7 linked regions of the Homo sapiens genome follow. The protein of the gene in region 4 purifies or fractionates together with the protein of the main gene of each other region. This does not show direct contact. Each region holds a gene or a part of one and is shown on either strand. Other genes may lie near its edges. The genes, in order: KAT2B, TADA2A, ZNF608, ZZZ3, KANSL1, KAT8 and DR1.

Region 1 (3,500 bases), on a different chromosome or scaffold from region 4:
GAAATGTCTTAAGACAGGTATGTCTTAAGAAATGTCATTGCCTTGCATGCCCTCAGATGCAAGGCAATGAGATGACAGCAGCATTTTTACCAAAAATGCCTTACTTGAATCTAATCCTTAGTAAACAATCAACAAATCCAAAAAGAGGGACCTTATACAAAACTAGCGACCAAGACTCTTCACCAATGGCAGTGCTGCAAAAGACCAAAACAAGGCTGGGGAGTTGTTTTAAAGGAGACTAAACAAATGAAGAGATAAGAATTAAATGCAATGCACAATCCCTAACTGATCCTTCAACAACAACAAAGGTTATAACTGACATCATCTGGCTATATGGGAAATTTAAATACGGTTTTATATTAGGCCAGAGGTCAGCAAACTTTTCAGTGAAAAGCCAGATAATAAATATTTCATACTTTGCAAGCCACACATTCCCTGTCTCAATTATTCAAATTTACTGTTGTAATGCAAAGACAGCTGCAAACAATATGTTTCAATAAAACTTTATTTGAAAAAAACAGCCAGTGGAGCAGATTTGGCTTGCAGGCTGTAATTCACCAACCCTGTATTAGAAAATATTGTAACCAGGCTAAATTTTCTAAGAGTAATGACTGCATTGTGGTTATGTAAGAGAATAGCTTCCTTATGAGATACAGTACATGCAAAAATAGTTAGGGGTGAAGTATTATGACATGTGTTTTTAATTCTGAAATGGTTCCAAATGGTTCATGGGGAGTGGGGAGAGAAAGAAAAAGAGCATATGGGGAGGCGCAGAGAGAAAGAGAGGTAGCAAATGTGGCATAATGTTAACTGCTGAATCTCAGTAAAGAGTCTATGGATTTTTATTACAGAATTTCTGCAACATTTATGAGGGCTTGAAATTTTTCAAGATAAAAAGCTGGGAATGATGCCTTCAACTGTGAGATTATTAGTAAGTGGACCTGTGATGTGATATTCATCAAGGGGAATTACCTCTTGATCAGTTGTTCCTGCCCTCTCCACACTGACCACCAGGTTAAATGCAAACCAGGGTAGCATAACATGTTAACTCTCAGCATTAGCATCCCCACTTCTGACAGCTGGAGTGGCCAGGAGAGCAGAAGAGGTCTACCAGCTGGCTGCCCAGGTTTACCCTGCTGACCTCTGGTCCAAGCATTGCTGCAGGGTCCGTGATGGTAGACATAACCTCGTTGATTAATTCCATCGGAATATCCCCCATAACTCGGGGTTTCTTGGCCTCCTCCAGAACATGAGAATCAGTCATTTTCCTCTTTTCTCCTATGATGATCAAAATAAAAGGCAAACAATGGGTGGTTCTAAACACAAAACAAATAATACACGCCAACTAATTTTCTAACAGCATTGATGGGCATGGAGGTCAACTCTATCTTTACCACCAGGGGAAGGGGTGACAAAGGAAGACAGGAAAGAGAGCCATTGTGAGCTCACAATAACTGCCAACCCAATTCATTGTGAATATTTTCTACTTTCTATGATGATTTTTAACTAGATACATGAAATATTAAGGCACATGTTCCTTCATCTGCAAATGCAAAGGGGTGATTCTAGCTATTGTTTGTTAGTACTCTCTAATATAGTCTCTTCAAGGTCAGAGAACATGGTCCATATGACACCAAAACGTCAAAATGGATTGAAATTTTTACCTTATGACCTAAAATAAGACCAATCTTTTGTAAATGTGCAGTGTCTTCTTGGAAAGAATGTGTATTTTCATATTTTGATCTCTATAACTCCATTAGCTTCAGCTTACAGATCATGTTGTATGGATATCAGTAAGAGCCTTACTGATATTTTTGTCTGTTTGACCTATGAATTACTCAGTTGTTTGTTTAAAGCCTCAACCGTTGGTTGATTTGATTATTTCTCCTTGTAGTCATGTTAATTCCACCCCGCCCCCACCGGCACCCCACCATATATGTACGGAAATCAGTTTGCATTAGGCTTTGGGCTTTATTGGTTAGTTATTGCTATGTAATAAACCAACCCCAAATGAGTCTTAAACCATAATAACTTACTATCATAGCTCATTCATTTCGTATGTTTCCTGATGGGTGGCTGATTTCAGCTCATCTCATTCAATCTTGGCAGGCTTGTTCATGAGTCTACCCACTGATTGGAATCTCTGTGCTGGGCTTGGCTATACACACACACACACACACACACACACACACACACACACACACACACACACATATGCATATGTGTATGTATGCATATATATTATGTATATATAGCTATATATTTGAAATATACCATAAATTATTTTTAATAAACAAATTTATGGATTTAATTTTCTATTATAAAATGACACACTTTATCTTTTACAATGCTTTTTTGCCCTAAAATGATGCCTCACAAAGTGAGCAGGACCACTAGCCTATCAAGTAGATGCAATCTCACCATTCCACACAATAGGAGAGCCATGCAAAGGCAGAGAGAACTTTCTTCCGCTTTCCTCATGAGATTGCATGGTAGTTTTTTTCTCCTTTCTATTCTCATGTTTGGTTTTTCCAGTTTTTTCCAGACATAACATGTATTTATTTTTACAAGTAAATTTTTTGAATTTTTAAGATGTCTAGATCTAATTTATTTCCTCACATGTGAATCCCACTGCTATCTCAATATAACATTCTCCACATAGCATTCTCACTATCTCTAGTTGAAAAGGAGCAGAACAGTATAAAGTAACTTGACTGTAGACGATTCTTCCAGAAGTATTACATATTATTTACTAAATCACTTTTGTCGAGTTCTTTTTTTTACAATTTTTTGTTGTTTGTTTTTGGAGACAAGTAACAATATTTTCAGACATCTGACCAATAAGTCCTCAAATTCCATGATTCCCTAAGAGTAATGCTGAAAACTATTTATTTCGTAGCTGGGGTTTGTACTTGATATGCCCTCTGCTTGTTAGACTGCTAATGGTGTTTATGATTTTTTTTAAAAAGTCTGAGGCTGAATCCAAGCTCACTGGTAAAGAGTTTCTGCATGAATTAGTGATATCTCCCTTGGAAGTGAAAGGGAATGGTGGCATATGCTAAATATATGGCACTTCTTATATTATAAGGTCCTCTTCTTTCCCTCTTTCATGGTACTTCTTTTATTTAAAAATTTGGTCACATCCAAGATTTGTCTGACGTCAAGTCTGTGGACAGAAATGCAACCTTCAAAACATTCTCTAACTGTGAAATGCTTCTAGGCTCAAGAGATATTTTTGCCCATGTGGTAGATTACATTAATGGCCAAATTCTTTACCCTCCTGGTATCTACACTCTTTGCTATGTGACTTTGCAGTTATTCCTACGAAAGGAATAGACTACCTTTTTCCACTTCTCCACCTCTCAACTCTGAGTTCAACTACGTGACTTGCTTTGGACGACAGAATGAGGCAGAAGTCAGCAGGGTATGGTGGCTCACACCTATAATCCCAGCACTTTGGGAGGCCGAGACAGGTAGATTACCTGAGGTCAGGAGTTTGA
Region 2 (3,500 bases), on a different chromosome or scaffold from region 4:
TAATGAGTCAAATACTGTATTCTCTAAGCAACTCATATGTATAATCATAAGCTCTCCAAAGGGATTGAAAAAAAACTTGCACTCATAATAGCATAGAAAAGGTTTTCCCTTTTTGACATCTTATTTTACAAAGGAAAGCACTAAGTTAACTGATATGTTCAAAGGACTCAAGGTAGGTGGAACTACACATTGGCTTCAAGCACCTTGATGTCCTGTATAGAACTCTGACCCTTAGAGTATGTTCCTTCTTTGCCACATTATAATCCTGACTCTTTTTTTTTTTTTTTTTAAGAGATGAAGTCTCACTCTGTCACCCAGGTTGGAGTGCAGTGATGTGATCTTGGCTCACTGCAATCTCCGCCTACCCGGTTCAAGTGATTCTCCTGCCTTGGCCTCCCCAGTAGCTGGGATTACAGGTGTCTGCCACCACGTCCAGCTAATCTTTATACTTTTAGTTGAGACAGGGTTTCGCCATGTTGGCCAGGCTGGTCTTGAACTCCTGGCCTCAAGTGATTTACCCGCCTCAGCCTCCCAAGGTGCTGGGATTACAGGCACAAGCCACCATGCTGGGTCGATCCTGACTCTCAATAGCTGCCATACTAACTCCTCCTATCTTCCGTGATATCATTAGCTGTCCAAGTCATCAAATCACTCTTTATCTGCTACTGAAACAGGGCCCAAGGATGAGCTAAGTATATCTTATCAAGATAGGGAGGCACTTACAGTGAAATGGAATGGCTGTGTCAGCAGTTTTTGCTTCCTCTGCTTGTTTCAGGTTCAGCAGGGTAGATGCAAACAGAGGGTTATTGATGAAATGCTTCATATAGTGCTTCTCACACTCCTCCTTGGTCTTGGTGCACATTTGATTGGCTACATCCTGCCTAGAGGATTGTGGGAAAAAGAGAGAAGTGGTACTTGTATTTACACATAATACTAAAAGCATCATTTGCTCTTTTCATATTTTAAGTCACATCCATATAATATACTCTCATATTTCCAAATTGATATCAAAAAGATATCAGCAGAAAAATGACATAAATATAAGCCTAGATTGGTGTAATCTGGTGTTCCATATCTTGCTAGTCTAAAACACAGAAATAATGACTAAAAAGTCCTTTCTTTTCCACTTAAAGAAAGATGACTGAGGCCAGGCGCAGTGGCTCACACCTGTAATCCCAGCACTTTGGGAGGTAGGTGGATCACCTGAGGTTGGGAGTTAGAGACCAGCCTGATCAACATGGAGAAACCCTGTCTCTACTAAAAATACAAAATTAGCCAGGCGTGGTGGTGCATGCATGCCTGTAATCCCAGCTACTTGGGAGGCTGAGGCAGGAGAATTGCTTGAACCCAGGAGGCAAAGGTTGCAGTGAGCAGAGATCACGCCATTGCACTCCAGTCTGGGCAACAAGAGCGAAACTCCATCTCAAAAAAAAAAAAAAATAATAAATAAATAAATAAATAAATAAATAAATAAATAAAGATGACTGGAAAATTTGTAAATTTTCCTGTGAGCTAGGCCCTACAGAAATAATTGCTGTAAATAATAAGAAGTGACTTCAGAACATTCAAAATATACAGAAATATAGTTTTATTTTGCCTAATATTTTACGGTTTACCAAACACTTAACATAAACATTTCTTTACTAGAGCTGCTATGAGATGCCAGACACTGAGCTAGAAACATTCACAACAGAATTTAAGTTAAACCTAGTATCAAATTTGTGGTATGGATATTGTTACTATCTCAATTTCAAAGAAGGAAAAATGAGGCCCAAAATAATTAAGAAACTTGCTTAAGAATCTGGCCAGGCATGGTGGGGCACATCTGTTATTCCAGCACTTTGGGAGGCCAAGGTGGGAGGATGGCTTGAACTCAGGAGTTCGAGACCAGCCTGGGCAACACAGTAAAATCCTATCTCAACAAAAAATACAAAGATTAGCCAGGGGTGGTTGCACACGCCGGTAGTCCCAGCTACTCGGGAGCCTGAGCTGGGAGGATCACTTGAGCCTGGAAGGTTGAAGCTGAAATGAGTCAAGCTCATGCCCCTGTACTCCACCCTGGGCGACAGAGCAAGATCCTGTTTCCAAATAATAATAATAATAATAAAATTTAAAAATTAGCTGAGTATGGTGGCGCACACCTGTTGTTCCAACTACTTGGGAGTCTGAGGAGGGAAGATCCCTTGAGCCCAGGAGTTCGGGGTTATAGTGACTGTGATCACACCACTGCATTTCAGCCTGGGTGATAAAGTGAGACTGTCTCAATAAAAAAAAATCCCTGACTTGAGCCAAGGTAATGGAGAGGTACAGGTGGAAGTCCTTTCCTCAAGGTCTCTTTTTCACAGCATTTCACTTGACCTCCCCTAAGGCATCACTGTGCTGTTTTGTGTACTTCAATCACTTGTATTTTTAAGTCCCCTGCTAAACTATAAGCTTTCTGAAGACAGGATGCATCTCATAATTCTTAGCTCTAGCCCACTCACTGCCAAACTTAGTGCCTTACCCACAGCGGATAGAGAAGCTATGTCTTTTTTATGTTCTTTGTTAAGAGGGAAGGAGGACAGAGAGGTTTAGACTATTTTAGAGAGAATGGTAAGCAAAAAATGAAAAACTAGGCCAAAGATGACTAGCAAACTCCTCACAAGTGATTACTTTTCTACCTCCTTTGGTATTTCTCATTGTACACAGTATTTTATGATGCTTAATAAATACTGAATGAATGAATACAAGCAAAATGTGAACTAAATTCAGGTCTCCTTCTTCAGGTCCCTGGACATAAGGGAGGCAGGCAGCAGAGTTTATTCTGATGAACACCAAGAAAGGTTATATACACTAGTAAGTCAGGACAGGGAGGACCTAATTAAGAGTCCTTCAGTAATAAGCTATGTAATCACAAGAAATCATTTCAACCCCCTAGGCTTCAGATAATTTGTGAACAAAATATATTCAATAATGCCTCTGCTATCTAGTTCATAAAATAAAAGCATCCATATGAAAGTGTTCCCAAAAGATAAAAACGAAAGTGGTAGTATTAAGTGGTGCTGCCCCCTAGGTCAACAGCAATAAGTGCTATTCAATTCCGCCGGTTTTGGACTAAGGCAGGTAGGTGTTTGAAAGCTAAAAACAGAGAATGCTATCAGGAAGTCTGTGAAACTTGAATCTTACGTATGACCATCTAGCTAAAGTCTGATTCACTTAAATGACTAGGGCATCTACAACTAACAAAAATTCATAAAATCAGAAGGGAGTAATAACTAACGAAACTAAACTTCCCTACTATTCAGAAAGGAATAATAATCAATCTTCCCACTGTTGATACATCCAAAGTGGCCTTTTAAAGCTGCTCAGTCATGGACCGCTAAACATCCCATATCCTCGTGACACATTTCGACACTGGAAAAATAATGTACAGAGGGGACTAACTTGCCTCTAAATCATGGGTTGATAGGAAAGCAACACATACTTTCTCTTCCTGAGGTTCCTTCCTTTACTCTTCAACA
Region 3 (3,500 bases), on a different chromosome or scaffold from region 4:
AGGATGTCTGAACCATGACAGAAGGTGCTAGTACATTTGTGGTTTCGTGGTGACCAATTTTCAGGTGTTCTCAAGCTGACTGACCCATGGGGCTCTGGGACAGCTGTTGAGGCCTGCCACCCAAACCTCCTCACCCTCCTCACAAACATTCAGCACTGAGCTCTGAGTTTTGGGGTACTTAATATAGGGAGTAAGACTGAAATCTAGGCATCTCTGACCCCATGTGAAAGAAATTTGGGCCCCAAATTCTATTAAAAAGATTAATGGGAAATGTGAATTCAGGGACCCAGTTTTTATTATCTTCAAAGAAGATGCTAGTAGAAATTTGAAAATGGAAAATAAATATTTCAGAGATAAGACTCAGAATCTCAGAGTTAGAAGAGAATTCAGCAGCCCCATTGTGGAAAGCCCTCGCCTTGGACTAAGAAATTAAGGGATCCTGGCCAGGCGCGGTGGCTCACGCCTGTAATCCCAGCACTTTGGGAGGCCAGGGTGGGCGGATCATGAGGTCAGGAGATCGAGACCATCTCGCTAACACGGTGAAACCCCATCTCTACTAAAAATACAAAAAATTAGCCGGGCATGGTGGCACGTGCCTGTAGTCCCAGCTACTCAGGAGGCTGACGCAGGAGAATCGCTTGAACGGAGGCGGAGGTTGCAGAGAGCCAAGATTGCACCACTGCACTCCAGCCTGGGTGACAGAGAGAGATTCCGTCTCAAAAAATTTAAAAAATTTAAAAAAAGAAATTAATGGACCTCATCAGAGTCACAGAGCAAGTTAGTGGCATGAAACACAAATCTGCAAAGCACCCATCCACAGTTCCTTTTACTATACACCATGACAAGAAAATACTGATAATGTACATTTTAGAGCTACATAGTAACTCCTGAGAATCTTAAGATATTTTTCAAGAGCAGAGGAAAAAACTAATATGGGTTTCTTTCCTGTGTCAGAAGTCTAACCAGATCAAGCCCAGACATGTATAATACAAGTCTCAGACTGCTCTCTCCCTGTTGGGGCCACGCTCCACAATCTTACTTGTTTAAATCTCGAGGTTGGGTCTACACCTGTCTGCTTCATAGAGTCCATGACAGACTTCATTTCTACAGCCTCCTTAATAAGCTGGTGGTTTTCCATCTGCTTAGCTTTGAAGCTGTCGGCCTGAAGCTGCTGCTGGTGATTGGAGAGAAGCTGCGATTTACCTGTCTCCTCAGTTTTATTAGGCACTGATGGCCCTAGTTTAGAATGGTTTTTGTTAGGCTCCGGAGTAGAGGGAGCTTTTGAGATTGTGGCCGATGGCATATTTTTCTGTTTAGTTTCCTCCTTGCCCAGCTCTTTCAAGGGGAGCTCACTTTTCCTTTCACAGTCTCCTCTCCCAGTCTGGGCCATTTTCTGCTCTGCCAGCCTCTGGTCCTCATAGTACTTCTCATACTGCTGTCTATAGGCAGGGCTGGTGGCCATCAGAGACTTCTGGTCCATATAGAGCCCATATGCATACTGGCCATAATAAAGTGACTGAGCCAGGGCAGGATGTCTTTGTGTGATCACCGACTGGTGCTGAGGCTGTAAGGATGCAGAATTGTGGTCCACTTTCTTAGAATCTAACTGCTCTGCCTTGTCTTTCTTTTCAGCATCTTCCTCAGACTCCTTCTTGATCTTCATTCCCTGCGTGCTCCCACTATTTCCAGCTGCAGGGGCACCGACCTGCCCAGGGTGCATGTAACTTGGAGAATAATAAGGATCATAGCTGTGGTAATAGGGAGAATGGGACTCTTTCAGTTGAGATGATTGTGCTGTAGTTGAAGAATGCCCTTTTACAACACTGTCCTTACTAGAAATAATATCTGATGGGGAACTGGCCTTTGATCTCATACCCTCCGACCTGCTGTCAGAACCACCATCGTCAGCAGCATCAGATATGTCTGAATAGGCCGGGCTGCTTGTCTTTGCAGCTGAACTCTCTGCCCCATTCTGGGTCAACACATGCAGAGGTGCCATTGGTGCCTGCCCGTTCACCAAAGTGCTGCATTCCAGCCTCGAGGCGCTCCCTATGGAAGGGCTGGGAGCGTTGTCTGTGAAAGTGTAAACCTTATCGGCCTCAGCTTTGATACTGGCCATGCGGCTCTCCTGAGACTCCGACAGTCCATTTGCCAGCCCTTCATTCTTGTTGAGATGATCCTTTAAAAAATGCCCAGGTAAATCTTTGCTGGCCCCCTTGGAGTCCTCTAGTTTCCCCAGCTTGGCATCCATTTTTGGGCTTCCCGTCTCTTTCCCTTCTTTGTCCTTTAGCTTTCGCTTCTCCTTTTTCTTTTTGTCTTTGAGTGACACCAGAGCTGGGTTCACGGTGATGGGCTCTCCCATAATTGTGGGCTTTGGTTGAATGGGTTTTAACGGAGGACTCTTTGGTGTAGCCTGAACAACAGTTGTTGTGAGGGAGGGCAGTCCGGGTATTGTCCCAGTGGTGGTCGTTGTAAAGGTTGCAGTGGGTATAGCGATTAGCTGCGGGGGAGTGGGGGCTGGGGCAGGGGCAATGGGCCGGGCACTTTTCAGTTTAGAGAGGTTTTTGTCCGTTTTGCAGTTGGTAGCTTTTTTGCCCTTTTCTTTATCTCCTAAATTTTTCTTGTCAATTAATCCTTCTGCTTCCAGTTTAGGCATCTCAGCAGCCAAACTGCCGTCTGCTGCCGAGCAACTGTCTAACGCAGCCGTCATGTTGGAGATTACTGGAAGGTTGTTCAGTTCATTGTTAAGGCCCTTCTTTTTGCCAGAATTCTTCCCAGCTTTAGCACCAATAATGGAACCTGGGCCATTGCTCATCAGCTCTCTCTTTCCCTTTGGGGTCCCAGGTGGGTTTCCAGCACCAGGGGATGCCGGTGCCTTCAACTGGTCATAAGCAGATACACTTGTGCTTGGCTCACTGCATTCAAGTGCCACATTACTCAATCCTTCCTCACAGTCCGAGATCTTGTCCTCACTGTCAGGCTCGAACTCCAGCTTGTTTTCTGGGTCTAAGTGTGCATGAGCCTGGTGGTACCTCAGGCCGTTAATGTGCTTGTACTTTTTGTTGCAGTTTGGGTGGGGACAGTCGATTAACACTGGAGAAGAGCAGCCTTGGTCCAAAAAAGTAGTCTCTGGTTTCCCTTGAGGGGTAGTGGGAGTGCTTCTGGAATTTGTGCGGACACGCTTTCCAGGCTTATTGTCCTCAGAGCTGGAGTTCAGGTCCAGCTCCATTGGAGGCTTGTTTTTCCTTTTGTTGGTGGAGGAAGGGCTGGCTTTGATATCCTCAGCAGCACAATTTGGGGGTGTCCTTCGTCCGCTGGCATTGAGGCTGCCCCGCCTCCCTTTCCCATTGGCCCCCCCTCTGTTCTTATTCTGCAGCCCTCTGGACTCTGTGAAGCTGGCCTCGGAGCCCGGGGCAGCAGCAGCAGACCTCGCTCTCTTCCCTCTGCCCCGGCCCCCTCTCATCTCCAGGTCACTTGTCGGTGACTCACAAAACCTATGG
Region 4 (3,500 bases):
GTATTAAGCTATTAAACACTATTAGAGTCTTATCAAAAGAACTTATAAGCCAACTTAAATAGGCTACAACAAACCAAAGATGGGCCACTTTGAACACTAACAAAGGCAGTAACATCAATGAATTGAAATACATTAAATACATTTAGGGCCAATAGTTCATAAGAATACAAAAAATTTTTAAACCTCATTGGTCATCTTTGAAGGATATGAGAAAATGAACTCATTATTTTAAAAACCAGAAAACAGGCCAGGCATGGTGGCTCACGCCTATAATCTCAGCACTTTGGGAGGCCGAGGCAGGCAGATCACGAGGTCAGGACATCGAGAATATCCTGGCCAACATAGTGAACCCCCGCCTCTACTGAAAATACAAAAACTAGCCGGGCATGGTGGCACATGCCTGTAGTCTCAGCTACTCAGGTGCCTGAGGCAGGAGAATCACTTGAACCTGGGAGGCAGAGGCTGCAGTGAGCCGAGATTGCACCACTGCACTCCTGCCTGGGCGACAGAGCGAGACTCTGCCTAAAAAAGAAAGAAAAAGAAAAAAAAGGGAGAATTGAGCAATTATCCCACCTTTTCTATATGTACCTCAGAGTAACCAAATAGTTGACTAGGGGGCAGGGGGATTACTTTTAGAATAGTCCAGCAAGTAAATGAAGAAATGATAGCATAATCACTATTCTGTAACATCTAATGAATTAATCAATTTAGTCAATGATCAGTGGCTGTTATGCCAAAAAAAGAGACAACCAGGCTGATGAAAGTAAACGTGAAGTAGTCCTGCCCACCCTAACAAACAAATACATCTGAATCTCATCAATGCTCTTGACCTACTATGAATTTACAGGAAGTTCAGAAAACAGAGGAACAGATTAAATGACAAGAAGATGTAATCAATAAAATCCATACTGCAAAATTCTATAAGACAAATGAACCAGTTCTTCAACAAAAACATTGGGAGAGGGAAAAAAGGAAAGTGAAAGAGGGAGAATGAACCTATTGTGATTTATGGGCTTTATTTGGATCCAAACCCAAATGAAGAAATTAGAAAAAAAATCATGAACAGTGACTATATATTTCACTGTATAACAAATTACCTTTTATAAACATGATAATTATATTGTGTAATATCTGGGACTTGCTCCAAAATAATCCAGAGCAGAGTTGAGGTGGGTAGGGAGTAGAGATTAAAATAAGGTAGCTTCATGTTGATAATTGTTAAGGTTCATTATACTATTCTATTTTTGTATATGTTTGAAATTTTCCTCACAAAAGTACATTACTTAAAAACTATACATTTGACTTGTTCATTAAAAGAAACCAACATTCTCTGAAGAGTGGAAATAATTAGAAAATCCTACTCTCTTCTATACCTTGATGTATATAACAACTTGATGTGTATAACTTACTGATGCATCTTCAACAGCAGTGTTCATGTGGCTATGAAAACAAGATCGGTCATCATCTTCATCCATATACACTGGCGGTTCATGTGAAGTCATGAAAGTGGAAGGCTTAAAGAGATGCTTATTAAGAGGGTGCTGTCGTCTGCTTGTTGAAGACTAAGTAAGAAAACAAATTTTTAATTGGTTCAGTGAAAAATCATTACAAGAATCAAAAATATAAAAATACAAATGTTACTTCCAACAAGTCTATCAGAAGAATTTCACTCTATCCTTTAGCATACTCTTATGTTGTTGCTTTTTCTGTTTTCTGCGTTTTTAAAGCATAACTAGCTTTAAAAAATTTTTTTTAAATGTAGGGGAAATACCCCAACAACGGTAAAATGGACCACATGTTTAATATCTAGCTTATATTTGTATCCCCAGCATTTATCATACTCTTGGCAGTCAAATGCTGGCTGCACTGAATTCTTATGATCATCTTATAGAAGATCAGACAGGATGAAGTGGCCTATGCCAGACATAAAACTATCCAGTAAAAAGTAAAAGGAAAATTTCTATAACATTATGAATATCTGAAAATACTTATCTAACATTGATTGACTGCTTATTCTATGCCAGGGTTGTCCAATCTTTGGCTTCCCCGGGCTACATTGGAAGAATTGTCTTGGGCCACACATAAAATACACTCACACTAAAAAAAAAAACAAAAAAACAACAAAAAAAAAATTTCTTGTAATGTTTTAAGAAAGTTTACCAATTTGTGTTGGGCCACATTCAAAGCTGTCGTGGGCCACATGTGGTACGTGGGTCATGGGTTGGACAAGCTTGCTCTATGCCAATGTCATTTAATCCTTACAACATTCCTATAACGTAGTTATCATCACCTCTAATTTAAAAATGAGAAAACTGAGGACAGGGAGGTTAAGTTTCTTGTTCAGTGTGTTGCAGCTAGATAGTGGTAGAACCAGGATTATAAACTAGGCCTATGTGGTGCCCAAATTCTCACTTTCCACCACTATGCAGCCTGCCTGTCTTGATCAATAGCACAGTCACAAAGAACACCCTCAGCTACATGAAGAACCATCATTTCACCTGTTTCCAAATTTAAACTCTAACAATGGCAAGCAATCATTGTAAATATAGCTGTACTAGATCTTCACAGCCAAAATACAGTACACCTAAGGGAAAAAAACACATGTACGTTCTCCAGTATTCCTTTTGTTATCATTATCCAGTGTTAATGATGAAAACATGGTTACATCTATAAAATTAGCTTAGAAATTAACCATGAAAATAAGAGCTCTTACATTAAACACAGGTTAATGTAAGGTTCCAATATTCCACAGTTATAGGATGAACTCTACAAATCTACACAGGTTGTGCTATATTTGGTGGGAAACCCAAAATATTTAAAACAATTGGCAAATTAAAACAAGCTTCCAAAGCTCGGTTAAAAAAAATTTTTTTTTAATGTGTAAAACATGAAACTGTATAGACAATATTCTTAATGTAAAATTACATGAAATAGCTTCAGTATGGAAGGATAACAGCACTAGATATACTCTTAGCTTCTCTTTATGAGAAAGATGTCAGTGGTGGGGAGGGAAAAGTAACAGGATAACTTATTAAGAAAATTTAAAACAGCCAATTAGGTGTCTTTATTTTTTGCGATTACAAGAACGAACAGCTGGGACTGCAGGTGCGTGCCACCACACCCGGCTAATTTTTGTATTCTTAGTAGAGACGGGGTTTCACCATATTGGCCAGGCTGGTCTTGAACTCCTGACCTCGTGATCCACCCGCCTCGGCCTCCCAAAGTGCTGGGATTACAGGCGTGAGCCACCGTGCCCGGCCGAAACTGGCTACATTTTAATGTAGTGTCCTGTTTGGGAAAGAAACAGTAGCTTCTCCACTGTAGAAAGCAACAGAGAAAAGTGGAAAAAGTGTGGCATCAGAATGGGAGAGAATCAGTGGTTCCCAGACTTAGCAGCTAAGCAACTAGATAATTCACTCAACATACCTGAGGGCCCAGTTTCCTTACCAAATAAAAGGTTATAGAACAGTAGAGTCTGGCTCAGAGCCCTCAATATAACA
Region 5 (3,500 bases), on a different chromosome or scaffold from region 4:
AAAATTGTGTCTGTACTGAAAAGGTACAGATTTTTCTTTTCATTATTCTCTAAACAATACAGCATACTATTTTTATAGCATTTACATTGCATTAGGTATTATCAGTAATCTGGAGATGATTTAAAGTATATGGGATTTAAAGCATACACATAGGTTATATGCAAATACTATGCCATTTTATATTAGGGACATGAGCAACAATAGCTTTTGCTATCTATGGGAGGTCCTGGAACCAATCCCCACTGCAGATACTGCAGATACTGAGAGCCTGCTGTTATCTGGCCTATCTTCTTTCTTTTTTTTTTTTTGAGACGAAGTCTTGCTGCGACGCCCAGGCTTGAGTGCAATGGCTTGATCTCCGCTCACTGGAACCTCCGCTTCCCAGTTCAAGTGATTCTCCTGCCTCAGAGTAGCTGGAACTATAGGCACATGCCACCACGCCCAGTTAATTTTTGTATTTTTAGTAGGGATAGGGTTTCACCTTATTGGCCAGGATGGTCTCGAACTCCTGACCTCAAGTGATCCACCCGCCTCAGCCGCCTCCCCAAGTGCTGGGATTATAGGTGAGCGCCACTGTGCCTGGCCTATCTTCTTTTACATAAATCCAGAGTCTTTGAAAAAACTTGGCAATGAGAGAGCCTCAGGGGTTAGCATAGTGCTATACACAAAATTTTTACTCAATAAATGGTAAAAATTTCAAGTGATCCAGGCCTAAGTTAACATTCTCCAGACACAGAAATATTGAAGTGCTCACCAAGTCCTGAATCTCTGAGTTCAGATTTTCTATCAGAATTAGTTTAGACTCTTTTTTATAAATACTTTGGTTATCTGAAACCCTTTGCTGCTGGATAACTGAGTATGTGAGGGACACTACACACCTATTTAGATAAAATTTGTGGGTTACGGGGGTAAAGAAAGTCGAAGAGCAAAGAGACCATTTGGAAAAGATTGATTTGTAACAGCAAAGAGAGAACAATGTGAATTCCTACCTGATCACAGGAGCCTAGTGAGTCCATTTTATGAGCTTGGAAGTTTCCTGATCTAGGCTCTGAAGGAACTTCCTAAGTTGCCTCTGCAATACCCTCACCCAGGCTTAGCCTGTGTAGTGTAATGGTAAAAGAGCTGGCTCTACAGTCAGGCTGCCTGAGTTTGAATCATAATTATAACCCTCACAAGTTGCCTTGACAGTTTTCATGCATATAAAATGAAATCCACAGTACCAACCTACATCTCAAAAGGCATTATAACATGTAACACATGTAAATCACTGATCACTGGTATGTAGTAAGTGTTCAATAAACATTACAGTTGCAGACTTTTACATTTACCATTACATTACATTGTAATTATTATACAAAAAGGACCCTTTGAGTAGGTCCATAGCAGCTACAGGTATGTATGTTCCAAGAGGGCACACTTGAGGAATTAAAATATTAGAATGAAATTAAAGGAAATGTGTCTGGAATAGCTGTGCAAACTGCTTCCAGATGGAGTGTGGTATCGTAAAATCTGGTGTGTGCATGCCAAATGTCCTGCCATGGGGGCCTGCTGGATCTGTAATTCTGCTCTGTATACCTAAAAAGCATGGACTCTGCCTTCTCCCTTCCCTTCTCTTCTGGTACCCTCACGCCTAGTGTTTATTCTTAGTACTTCACCTCCACTCACCCAGAGAGTAAAACCAAGGAAATCAAACACTGCTTCCAACGCCCATGGGAATCTCCCCTCTACCCACCCCTCCTCTCTTGTTCACTTCTTGGGCCAACAGGATTAGGGCCACGGAACTGTTGAGTCCTGTGTGAAACTTAGTCCAACAGATCTTGAATAGTCACAGATCACCTTAAGAGTTTGTCCCTGCATCAAGCTTTCTATGGATGGCTCAGCATAAATCCATCTCTGCTATGAAAAACAACTCAAGAAAAACAACAGAAGGTCAAGTACCATGACTTTGACTTAAAAATGGTACAGACATACATACATATGTCATGATGAGCTGAGATCCTATAAATGCCCTGGGCTTTATAACCCACCCTCACACTGTCCTCTGGAGCCACTTGAGTGAGCTGTGACCTGCAGAGGGGGTGTCCGGCCAACCCCACACAGGTACTTACCGATGTGCTGGCTGTAACCTGTGAGCTAGAGCTGGCGGGTGCAGGGGAATCTGAGGAGGTGGAGAGCTGTCGCACCAAGGGACTGTGTGGAGGATGGTGGGTGGCTGCCAAGTAGCTCGAACTGCTCATGTCTGTGTGATGCTTCAACACTGCAGAAGTCAACAGAAAAGAGAGAAATACATGGCTATCTTAACCAGCGTTACTTCTAACACAAGCTTGGAATGGCAGCAATACATACTAAAGGCAAAAATGTTTTCTATGCCTAGAGGATAAAAAGGTGAAGCACACTAGCTGTGGGAAGTAGGGGCAGGGCAGAGGTTGCTGTAGCAGTTAAGAAGTGACCTCCATTTAGAAGCAGTAGCGTCCCTCTACTCTGCTTTCCTAGAAAGTGAAGGACAAAGCTGGGGGTAATTAAGAGAAGCCTAGGCTGCCCCAGAAAGCCCTGAGCAGGTGCAGTTGCAGGTAGAGGTGCCATGGGCCTGGCCCTACCTTCACTTCTCTCAGATGAATGGTCTCGCAATCTCATTTTGCTGTGGTTTGGGTCATGCACGGGTGGTGGTGGGTTGAGCAAGCGCTCTGCTTTTGGCGCTGTCACTCGCTCCACCATGGGCACGGCCCCCACATCGTCTAAGTGCTGCCTGTGGGTCCTGTCAGGCCGGGTTTGGTGATGGGACAGCTCTGAAGAGGGGAACAGAAAAAGAGCTGTGAAATATGTCCTCTCAAATATTTTCTTATTCGAGTTCCAAGCTCTCGAGTTCTCTCTAGGCCAACGCCGTATACCCAGGGCAGCAGGACAGTCCTTCAGGACTGAAGTTTCTAGTAATTTGCACAATGGCTAGGATAGGCACAGGGAGCCCAGAACCAGAGAAACATGTCACCAGGATACAGAAGACACCTGCCCGTAGATGAACTCAATGCCATGCCATTGCTGGCTGTTCACTGAGCATTTTGGGTCTTGCTCCAAGATCCATGGTGTCTAGAATAGCTCCCGAAGTCCATCTGAGAGCATCCAAGACAAGCAGAAGCAGTCACTGTGAGCTGAATTTTTTATCGGTCAACTGCCTCTCCCAACCCCAACATGCATGCAAACTACAAATTTGAGAATATAAAAGGAATGAAAAGTCACTGATACTCTGGGGGACTTCCCGGCTCCCTGACACTTACTGGCTGTTGTTAGGAAGGAGCTGACCAATTTGTGCCTGTCCTTACGAGCTGAATCTGGCAGACTGCCCGGCATGGGTGCTCTGTGCTTAAGCGATAACTTTTTGGGAGGTTTGATTTTGTCAAAAGGCTTGTTCTGCCACTGAGATTTCAGCATGCTCTGGAAATGCAGGCTTGTGGGAACATCTGCAAGAAACATAAAATGCTACAGGTTAGTCCAAACACCTGGCC
Region 6 (4,196 bases), on a different chromosome or scaffold from region 4:
ATTCTTCTGGGTGTGCTTTTTGGGACCATCACTGAGAGTCAGGAGTTTTACTGCCTGTAGCAATGGCCAGAGCCTCTGGCCCCTCACCCACCATGGACCAGCCCATTGGCCGAGCTCCTGGGGAGCTCCTGGGACCCTTGGCTATGAAAATGAGCCCTGGCTCCCACCTGTTTCTGGAAGACTGCTCCCGGCCCGCCTGCCCAGACTGATGAGCACATCTCTCTGCCCTCTCCCTGTGTTCTGGGCTGGGGCCACCTTTGTGCAGCTTCGAGGACAGGAAAGGCCCCAATCTTGCCCACTGGCCGCTGAGCGCCCCCGAGCCCTGACTCCTGGACTCCGGAGGACTGAGCCCCCACCGGAACTGGGCTGGCGCTTGGATCTGGGGTGGGAGTAACAGGGCAGAAATGATTAAAATGTTTGAGCACAACTTGCCGTGCATGTGTGAAGTGAAATGAAGAACATCCGCTCTTGGCCTCCCCTTCCCCTCCAAAGTCCAGGGCCACCAGAACTGACTTTATTAAAAAAATGACAAAACAGGTCTATACATATTTACAGGCTGGGAGCCAGGAGGCTCAGGTCCGACAGCAGGGGCCAGGCTGCTCACTTCTTGGAGAGCTTGACTTGCTTGTGCTTGGGGGGTGCCCACTTGAGGCAGACGGAGTCCACTGTGGGGAGAAGGGGCGGGAGGCAGGGCTGGGCCTGGGCCAGGCCAGCTCACACCTGGCTGCCCTCCTCTGGGCTCAGGCCAGTTTCACCTCCTCCAGGTGAGAACAAAAGGGCAGGCTGTGCTGGGGAGGGGTAGGGAAGCCCAGGAATGAGAGGCCTGCCCCGGGCTCCATCCTGGGAGCTGGTCTGACTGGTTTGGGATCATGTGACAGCAATAAGGAGGCCTTGACTCCTACCAGTCCATATACTGACACTCCCCCACCGCCCCCGACACACAGCAGCCCCCCACCCACCTGTGATGGGTGGTTTCTTATACTGGGCACTTTTGAGGTGCTCCTCCACCAGCTTGGGTGTGACACAGATCACGTGCTGGCCCTTCCAGTACTTGACCATATTGAGGGATTGCAGGGTACTGATGATGTCATTTTGGGTGATACTGGTCATCTGGCTGCAAAAAGGGATGAGAGCAAATGCCAGACCTGGTGCCCTTGTGGGATCTGGCCAGGATGGTGACAGGGTATGAGGAAGCAGGATCGTGGCCCATCTCAGGGCAAGTCCTGCCCCCAGGGCCCGGGAGGCCCCCTCACCTGAGGTCCTTGATGGACAGTGTGCCCCGGAAGTCCCGCAGGATCTCTAGCAGCACCCAGGACCAGTAGCTGCGGTAGCTGAGCTTGCCCAGGTCAGACAGTGGCTTCTCCGGGGAGCCGACTGTGCTCTCCAGCTTGGAGAGCTCATAACCTGGCAGCAGTAGAAAGAGGAACTTAGGATCCAGCCTGCCCTGGCACCCCTGCCCCACAGGTCTCCCCCTCCCAGACAGGCCAGGAACCACTCACTGAAAGCGATGAGGAACTTCCCGTAGCCGCGGCGTTGGTAGGGGGGCAAGGTCAGGATGCAGGCCACATTGTTTCCATCCGGGGACTCCTTCTCCTGCAGGAGGCAGGTGCTCAGGGCCGCTGGGGAGGCTCTGCCCCACTCTCTGTTCATGCCCACCTTCGCCCTCCCCACCCTCCCCACCCCGAGTTTCCAGACCCAGCACCTTGGAGAAGTAGCCAACAATGTGGGCCCCCTGCCGGTCCACCTCAGTCAGGATGTAAAAGACGAACGGCTCCACGTCAAAGTACAGTGTCTTATGGTCCAGGAAAAGCTTGGCCAGCAGACACAGGTTCTGACAGTAAATCTAGGGTTGAGGAGGGGGGAGACAGGCTCAGGGGGCAGGCACAGGCCCCACCCAGCTGGTTCCAGCGGCCGGCACCAGCCCACGCGAAGTGGGCGCCTCGCCAGGCCAGAAGGATTTCACACTGGAAGGAGTCTTCGGTCAGCCTCTGACGAACAGGGAACTGGAAATGAGAGAGCAACAGCACTTCGGAGGTGCCAGTGGAGCTGGATGAAGCCCGGCCACCCCTTCTGAGTGCCAAATACGAGCTGGGTGCCTTCCATGCAGGATCTGCTTCAGTCTTCACAGACATTAACTCTGTTTCAGCTCGTGAAACTGAGGCTCCGAGGCAGGAATTTAGACCGTCCTGTTCATGGCTGTGTCCCCAGCGCCTAGCACGAGTCTAAGTATGAAGCTGGGTGCCTGGTAAACGTCTGCTGAATGGAGGAACCTCGAGCCCTGTCTGTCCACTTGGCTGCACTCCAGGAGGGGGACAATGGGACCGAGTTTGGCTTCACGGCACACACTAAGGGGCTCCCTGGTTTATGACACCACAGCCACTCTCTCATCCAACCCGGCAGCTGTGCGAGCCCAGCACTGCCAGGCCCATCTTACTCAGGAGGAAGCTGAAGCTCCCAGAGTGGAAGTGCTTGCCCAGAGCCTCAAAGCTGGCAGAGCGCAGTTGGAAAGCACCCCCACATCTCCAGCGGGGGCCCTTCTGCTATTCCACACAGCCATGCTCAGGAAGGCAGAGCAGGGGCAAGGGCTGGGCTCAGCCTGCGTATTCTCCGAGTCCAAGGCTAATCAAGCCCCAAGAGGTCACCGATAATAACAAGGCCCGTGTTTATTAAGCACATACTAGTGCTAAGCACTGCACTAAACACTTGACATTTGCTGTCTCATTTATTCCACTAACAACACAACTAGGTAAATATTAAATATTATGACTCCCGTCTTATGGACAAGGAAACAGGAACAAACCATGTTAAGTAACTTGTCTGTGGTCAGTGAGGAAGTGACAAGGCAACATGAGCCACCCTGAAGCCTGCCCTCTCTGTCCTGTGCTGTATGGCCCATCTGCGGGAAACCAGTACACTTGGCCAGACCCTCCCAGACTGATAAGGCAAAGGCCAAGTTCTCTACAACAGCTAGGCAGGTCCCAAAGGCCCCAACCTGCCCTGCTGAAGTCATTCGGGGCCAGGAACAAGGAACTCAAACCTTGAAAGCCACAGAGCTCTCTCAGGAGGAAATTTCACACAAAGCAGTCCCCTCCCAGGCAAAAACAAACACCTTTCTTTCCAACGGAAGGAGAGAGCACTTCTAAAAGCAGCCTCAGGCAAGAAAATCTCCTCTGGGTTCCAGAACAACCCAAGTTTGAACCTAACCCCACCAGCAGAAGAGTCTTGGGGCCACCACAAGGCCCTGTGTTTCCTATGCACCAACTACAGGCCTAGTGCCAGGCTAGGAGGCCCTCAGAGGCCTTCTTTTTTTTTTTTGAGACAGATTCTCAATCTGACGACCAGGCTGGAGTACAGTGGCACAATCTCAGCTCACTGCAACCTCTGCCTCCCAGGTTCAAGCAATTCTTGTGCCTCAGCCTCCCGAGTAGCTGGGATTACAGGTGCGCACCACCACGCCAGCTAATTTTTTGTATTTTTAGTCGAGGAGTTTCGTCATGTTACCCAGGCTGCTCTCAAACTCCTGAGCTCAGGCAATCTGCCCACCTCAGCCTCCAAAAGTGCTAGGATTACAGGTGTGAGCTGCAGTGCCCGGCCCCTCAGAGGCATTCTGCCCATAGAGGCTCAGCTAAGGCTGCCCCCTCCCCTTTGGTGGTGATGAGGATCATCTGGGAGGTGCCCAGGGCCTCCCCGGCCTCTCCCAACCCCTGGCCACCCACTCACCTTATGGTCTTTGCCATCAACTTCGTACACGGAGATGTTGCTCTTGCGGTAGATCTCTTTCCCGGGGGGCTGCCGCCACTGGCACTGACCCTGGTCGGGGACAAGAGAACAGGTTCGCTGCCCATATGTTCTCTGCTAGGAGGCACCCAACCCACCACTGCATGCTTTGGAGCAAGTCTCTGCCTCTCTGTTTCCCCCCTCAACACTTCACCTACATCGAGTAATCCTCCCAGCAGCCTTAGGAAAGTGATCCTGCTTTTACAGACCAAGGCCCAGGCACAGAGATCCAAACATCACACAGCACGGTGGGGTTTTGAGTCTCTGTGGGCCTGGCTCTGGAGGGACCCGTCCATGACAATGGCTTCCCTAAACCACACCTATTCGCTTCAGATTCCACACTTCGGGAAGCAGCCCACTGTGTCAGTGATGAGAGCGCCCCTTCCTGACAGCCCCCAATTTCATCCACACTTAAGGTC
Region 7 (3,500 bases), about 16 Mb from region 4:
TATCTAAGTTTATATCCTTTTTTTCCACCACACTTGAGAATAGAGATTGTTTCCATATTCTTTGTTGCATTCCTAACATAAAGGCCCTCAGTATTTTCTGAATGAACATGCTACAGGAAAACAGTGATGCCCAGCATAACCAGTAACATTTAAGATTTTACCATGTACAATCCTCACTCTTCTGAATAATCTGTCATGACTTTATTATCCAAACATTTCTAGATATAAATTCTAATCAGGTCACTATTTCATTTTTTTAAAAAAAATCATTTGTTATCAATCAAATCCAAATTTCCTAGCCTAGAGTTCAAGGTCTTCCAAATTAGTGTCTACCCCAACCTCTCTATAGTCTTTTTTTGTAACATGTACTTTGTGCTTCAAAAAAGCCTAGAACACAAAATGTTTCCCAAATATACACCATACTTCCTCATCTTTGCTACCTTTACTCATGCTGACACTCATCCTATGTGAAATTTCCTGCCACTTACTGAAATTCTACCCTTCCTTCAAGTCAAACTGAAATACTATTTTCTCCTCCTGGCATCAGTCAGTGTATAATCAAGAGATAGATGTCACATGAGTTACTGGAATGGAAAAAATTTAATACGAAGAATTGTTAAACAAGTATAAAGTTGTTATTAGGGAGCTGAAAAGGCAGGAAGAGAACATGAAGATGTCATGAAAGTAGCAGCTACAGGAAGCAGCCACCAACCCTAAAACTGAGGGAATAAAGGAAAATGCTGGAATTTTTAAAATTTAGAAGCTTAAGAAACCACTTCATGGAACTGAAACTCAGGCCTCGGAAGAATGGGCATAGATAAGCTAGTACTAATATATCTGCGCTTGGAGGAGGGCCCCAAGGGTTGGGATCCACACTGCCAGAGTGGGGGGATGGGGTGCGGGTTCAGGCTGGTGGTGTATTAGAGAAAATGCAAACCGCGTTCAGTCTCTGCTACAGGAAAACTGATGCAACCAGGGTGAAGAAGTGTTGCTGGGTTGTTCAAAGGAACTGAAAGACAAGAGAAAGTAAGAGAAAACCCTTTCTCTTCCTCCATCCATGCAATCTCCCACGATAGCCCCATATGGCAACAGAGTCTAATGGAGAGTCAGCTAGCAAAGAAACATGTGGCTTGCAGAGTACTAGGTCCAGTCACAAAGCAGAGCATAGAAAGGTGGGTCTGGAGCTAAGATAATTGCTTACTAGTTGGCATACTCCTGTACCCCTAAAATTTGATGTAATGTTTCCATACTTGGGATTTCTTTCTCTTTCCTTCTTCCCTCTTTCTTTCTATTTTTGTAGAGAGAGGGTCTCACTATATTGCCCAGGTTGGTCTCAAACTCCTGGGCTCAAGTGATTCTCCCACCTGGGCCTCCTAAAGTGCTATGATTACAGGTGTGAGCCACTATGCCCAGCCAGAATCTCTTTCTCATAAGTGGTCAGCCTCATATTATAGTTATCTTCCTCATCCAAGTAGTCAGTCTCATAATGATATATTCTTCATTTTTTTTTATATCTATAGTACCACATATGTCTTACATACAGTAGGGACATGTTAATTGAATTCTGACTTGAAATTTGTTGACTGAAGGGCAGGAGTAGGGTGGTGCTGGTGTAGGTGGCAGTAGTGAAGTGGAAGAAGAAAAGCTATTACCTTGGGGGAAAGCTATCCAAGTAACCATAGTATCAGAGACTAATAAAGGAAGAGGTCTACATTAAATGTTATTTTTAAAAAAACAGATGAGTAAGAATTGAAAGGAAAAAAAATTACTGAATTTGGTGATTAAATGCCTCTGTGGTAGGACAGAAGTTAAATTTGAGGAATAAGTGATTGTACATTTTCAAAAAATGGTAGCACTGATCATTATTTATTTATTTATTTATTTATTTTAGAGATGGGGTCTTGCTATGTTGTCCAGACTAAAGTGCAGTGGCTATTTACAGGCATAGTTGTTATGCACTGCAACCTTGAACTCCTAGCCTCAAGGGATTGTCCTGCCTCCATCTCCCGAGTAACTGGGACTACAGGAAGGTGCCACCTTGCTTGGTGGGTAACACAGATCATTATAGCAAAAGATGAAAGGGTTTGGGGGATACAAGGAAATGCAGAAGACCCGTATATGGTTAAAGGCAAAGAGGAAGAAATAAGTAAGGAAAAGACTATAGATATTAGAAAAAACAAGGATAAGACAACTTTTACAGTAAACAAAAACTTCATTTTGCTTAGGAAATTAGAAACCATCCATTCTCCCTAATAATGACTGTCATCCATTTTTGTAAAGAAATAGGAAAAATAGTTGATTCTAACACAATAGCATATTTACTTTTACGGCAGGAATATCCAGAGTTCAAAACCAACTAACAGAGCTTCGCTAAAAACATTTTAAGGCCGGGCGCGGTGGCTCATGCCTGTAATCCCAGCACTGTGGGAGGCCAAGGTGGGCGGATCGCCTGAGGTTGGGAGTTTGAGACTAGCCTGGCCAGCAGGATGCAACCCTGTTTCTACTAAAAATACAAAAATTAGCCAGGCATGGTGGTGCATGCCTGTAATCCCAGCTACTTGGGAAGCTGAGGCAGGAGAATCGCTTGAACCCGGGAGGCGGAGGTTGCAATGAGCCGAGATAGCACCACTGCACTCCAGCCTGGGCAACAGAGCAAGACTCCATCTCAAAAAAAAAAAAAAAATTGTAAGAGTTCATAAGAAAATTGCAGGGCAAATCAAATACATAAATTCAACCAACATAAGCATACCTATATTTTGTGGTCTAATCAACTACAAGTTGGTATAATTTTGTGACATGGAAAAAATTCAAATAATTTCAAGTCTCTACAAAGGTTTTACTGCAAAGGTGCTTGATTTGGTAGTCTATTCAATGGTCTGCAAAGCTGTGTACTAGTTACATTTCAAATTTAATTGACTTTTAGCTACCACGGCCCTGTATCAGCGCTGATACTTTTCTCTGAACATAAAAACATTTCTATGCCTTTAAAACTAACTGTTGAGCTGGGCTCACTAGTGCACATCTATAGTCCCAGCTACTCATGAGGCTGAAGCAGGAGGATCCCTTGAGCCCAGGAGTTCTAGGCTGAAGTGTGCCTGATCGAGCCTGTCAATAGCCACTGTGCTCCAGCCTGGGCAACATGGTGAGATCCTGTCTCTTTAAAAAAAAAAAAAAGTTGATTGATAAAATTTTATTTGTATTCATTTCCACAAATTGAACATTTTTCAGTGATATTTACTGTAATATATTTTTTTCTCTCTTGCCCCCTACTCAATCCATCCCAAGTATTTTTCTTCTAAAATTGGGGTGTGAAAGACAGGTAAGCAGGCATGTATTTCCTAATTCACTTTTCTTTTGGAGGTTTTCATTATGTTTTAAGATTCTCACTCCCACATATTAAAATGACTCATTTATAATTTAAAGTTAACTTTAATCTTGATGTATTAAAGGTTCCCTCCTTCCAAATATTTGCTGCTAGCTTCAAATGAGGCTGTCATTGT

The links.
Region 1: the proteins of ZZZ3 (region 4) and KAT2B purify together in Homo sapiens (affinity purification with mass spectrometry; 2 studies listed by BioGRID). This does not show direct contact.
Region 2: the proteins of ZZZ3 (region 4) and TADA2A purify together in Homo sapiens (affinity purification with mass spectrometry; 4 studies listed by BioGRID and IntAct, with this or other methods). This does not show direct contact.
Region 3: the proteins of ZZZ3 (region 4) and ZNF608 purify together in Homo sapiens (affinity purification with mass spectrometry, with the first as the bait; one large-scale study listed by BioGRID). This does not show direct contact.
Region 5: the proteins of ZZZ3 (region 4) and KANSL1 purify together in Homo sapiens (affinity purification with mass spectrometry, with the first as the bait; one large-scale study listed by BioGRID). This does not show direct contact.
Region 6: the proteins of ZZZ3 (region 4) and KAT8 purify together in Homo sapiens (affinity purification with mass spectrometry, with the first as the bait; one large-scale study listed by BioGRID). This does not show direct contact.
Region 7: the proteins of ZZZ3 (region 4) and DR1 purify together in Homo sapiens (affinity purification with mass spectrometry; 2 studies listed by BioGRID and IntAct, with this or other methods). This does not show direct contact.

What each region holds. Positions count from the first base shown.
Region 1 is NC_000003.12:20,120,446-20,123,945, reverse strand, and holds part of KAT2B (histone acetyltransferase KAT2B), read right to left. Parts: intron 1,279-3,500; coding exon 1,142-1,278; intron 1-1,141. UniProt on the Homo sapiens protein: Functions as a histone acetyltransferase (HAT) to promote transcriptional activation. Has significant histone acetyltransferase activity with core histones (H3 and H4), and also with nucleosome core particles.
Region 2 is NC_000017.11:37,437,886-37,441,385, reverse strand, and holds part of TADA2A (transcriptional adapter 2-alpha), read right to left. Parts: exon of another isoform or gene 3,428-3,500; intron 882-3,427; coding exon 724-881; intron 1-723. UniProt on the Homo sapiens protein: Component of the ATAC complex, a complex with histone acetyltransferase activity on histones H3 and H4. Required for the function of some acidic activation domains, which activate transcription from a distant site. Binds double-stranded DNA.
Region 3 is NC_000005.10:124,645,640-124,649,139, forward strand, and holds part of ZNF608 (zinc finger protein 608), read right to left. Parts: intron 3,495-3,500; coding exon 1,040-3,494; intron 1-1,039. UniProt on the Homo sapiens protein: Transcription factor, which represses ZNF609 transcription.
Region 4 is NC_000001.11:77,574,659-77,578,158, forward strand, and holds part of ZZZ3 (ZZ-type zinc finger-containing protein 3), read right to left. Parts: intron 1,563-3,500; coding exon 1,410-1,562; intron 1-1,409.
Region 5 is NC_000017.11:46,036,430-46,039,929, forward strand, and holds part of KANSL1 (KAT8 regulatory NSL complex subunit 1), read right to left. Parts: intron 3,456-3,500; coding exon 3,273-3,455; intron 2,787-3,272; coding exon 2,598-2,786; intron 2,258-2,597; coding exon 2,109-2,257; intron 1-2,108. UniProt on the Homo sapiens protein: Non-catalytic component of the NSL histone acetyltransferase complex, a multiprotein complex that mediates histone H4 acetylation at 'Lys-5'- and 'Lys-8' (H4K5ac and H4K8ac) at transcription start sites and promotes transcription initiation.
Region 6 is NC_000016.10:31,127,664-31,131,859, reverse strand, and holds the end of KAT8 (histone acetyltransferase KAT8), read right to left. Parts: intron 3,811-4,196; coding exon 3,721-3,810; intron 1,844-3,720; coding exon 1,703-1,843; intron 1,594-1,702; coding exon 1,500-1,593; intron 1,405-1,499; coding exon 1,254-1,404; intron 1,115-1,253; coding exon 960-1,114; coding exon of another isoform or gene 868-959; exon of another isoform or gene 666-867; coding exon 601-665; 3' UTR 501-600; downstream 1-500.
Region 7 is NC_000001.11:93,355,907-93,359,406, reverse strand, and holds part of DR1 (protein Dr1), read right to left. Parts: intron 1-3,500. UniProt on the Homo sapiens protein: The association of the DR1/DRAP1 heterodimer with TBP results in a functional repression of both activated and basal transcription of class II genes.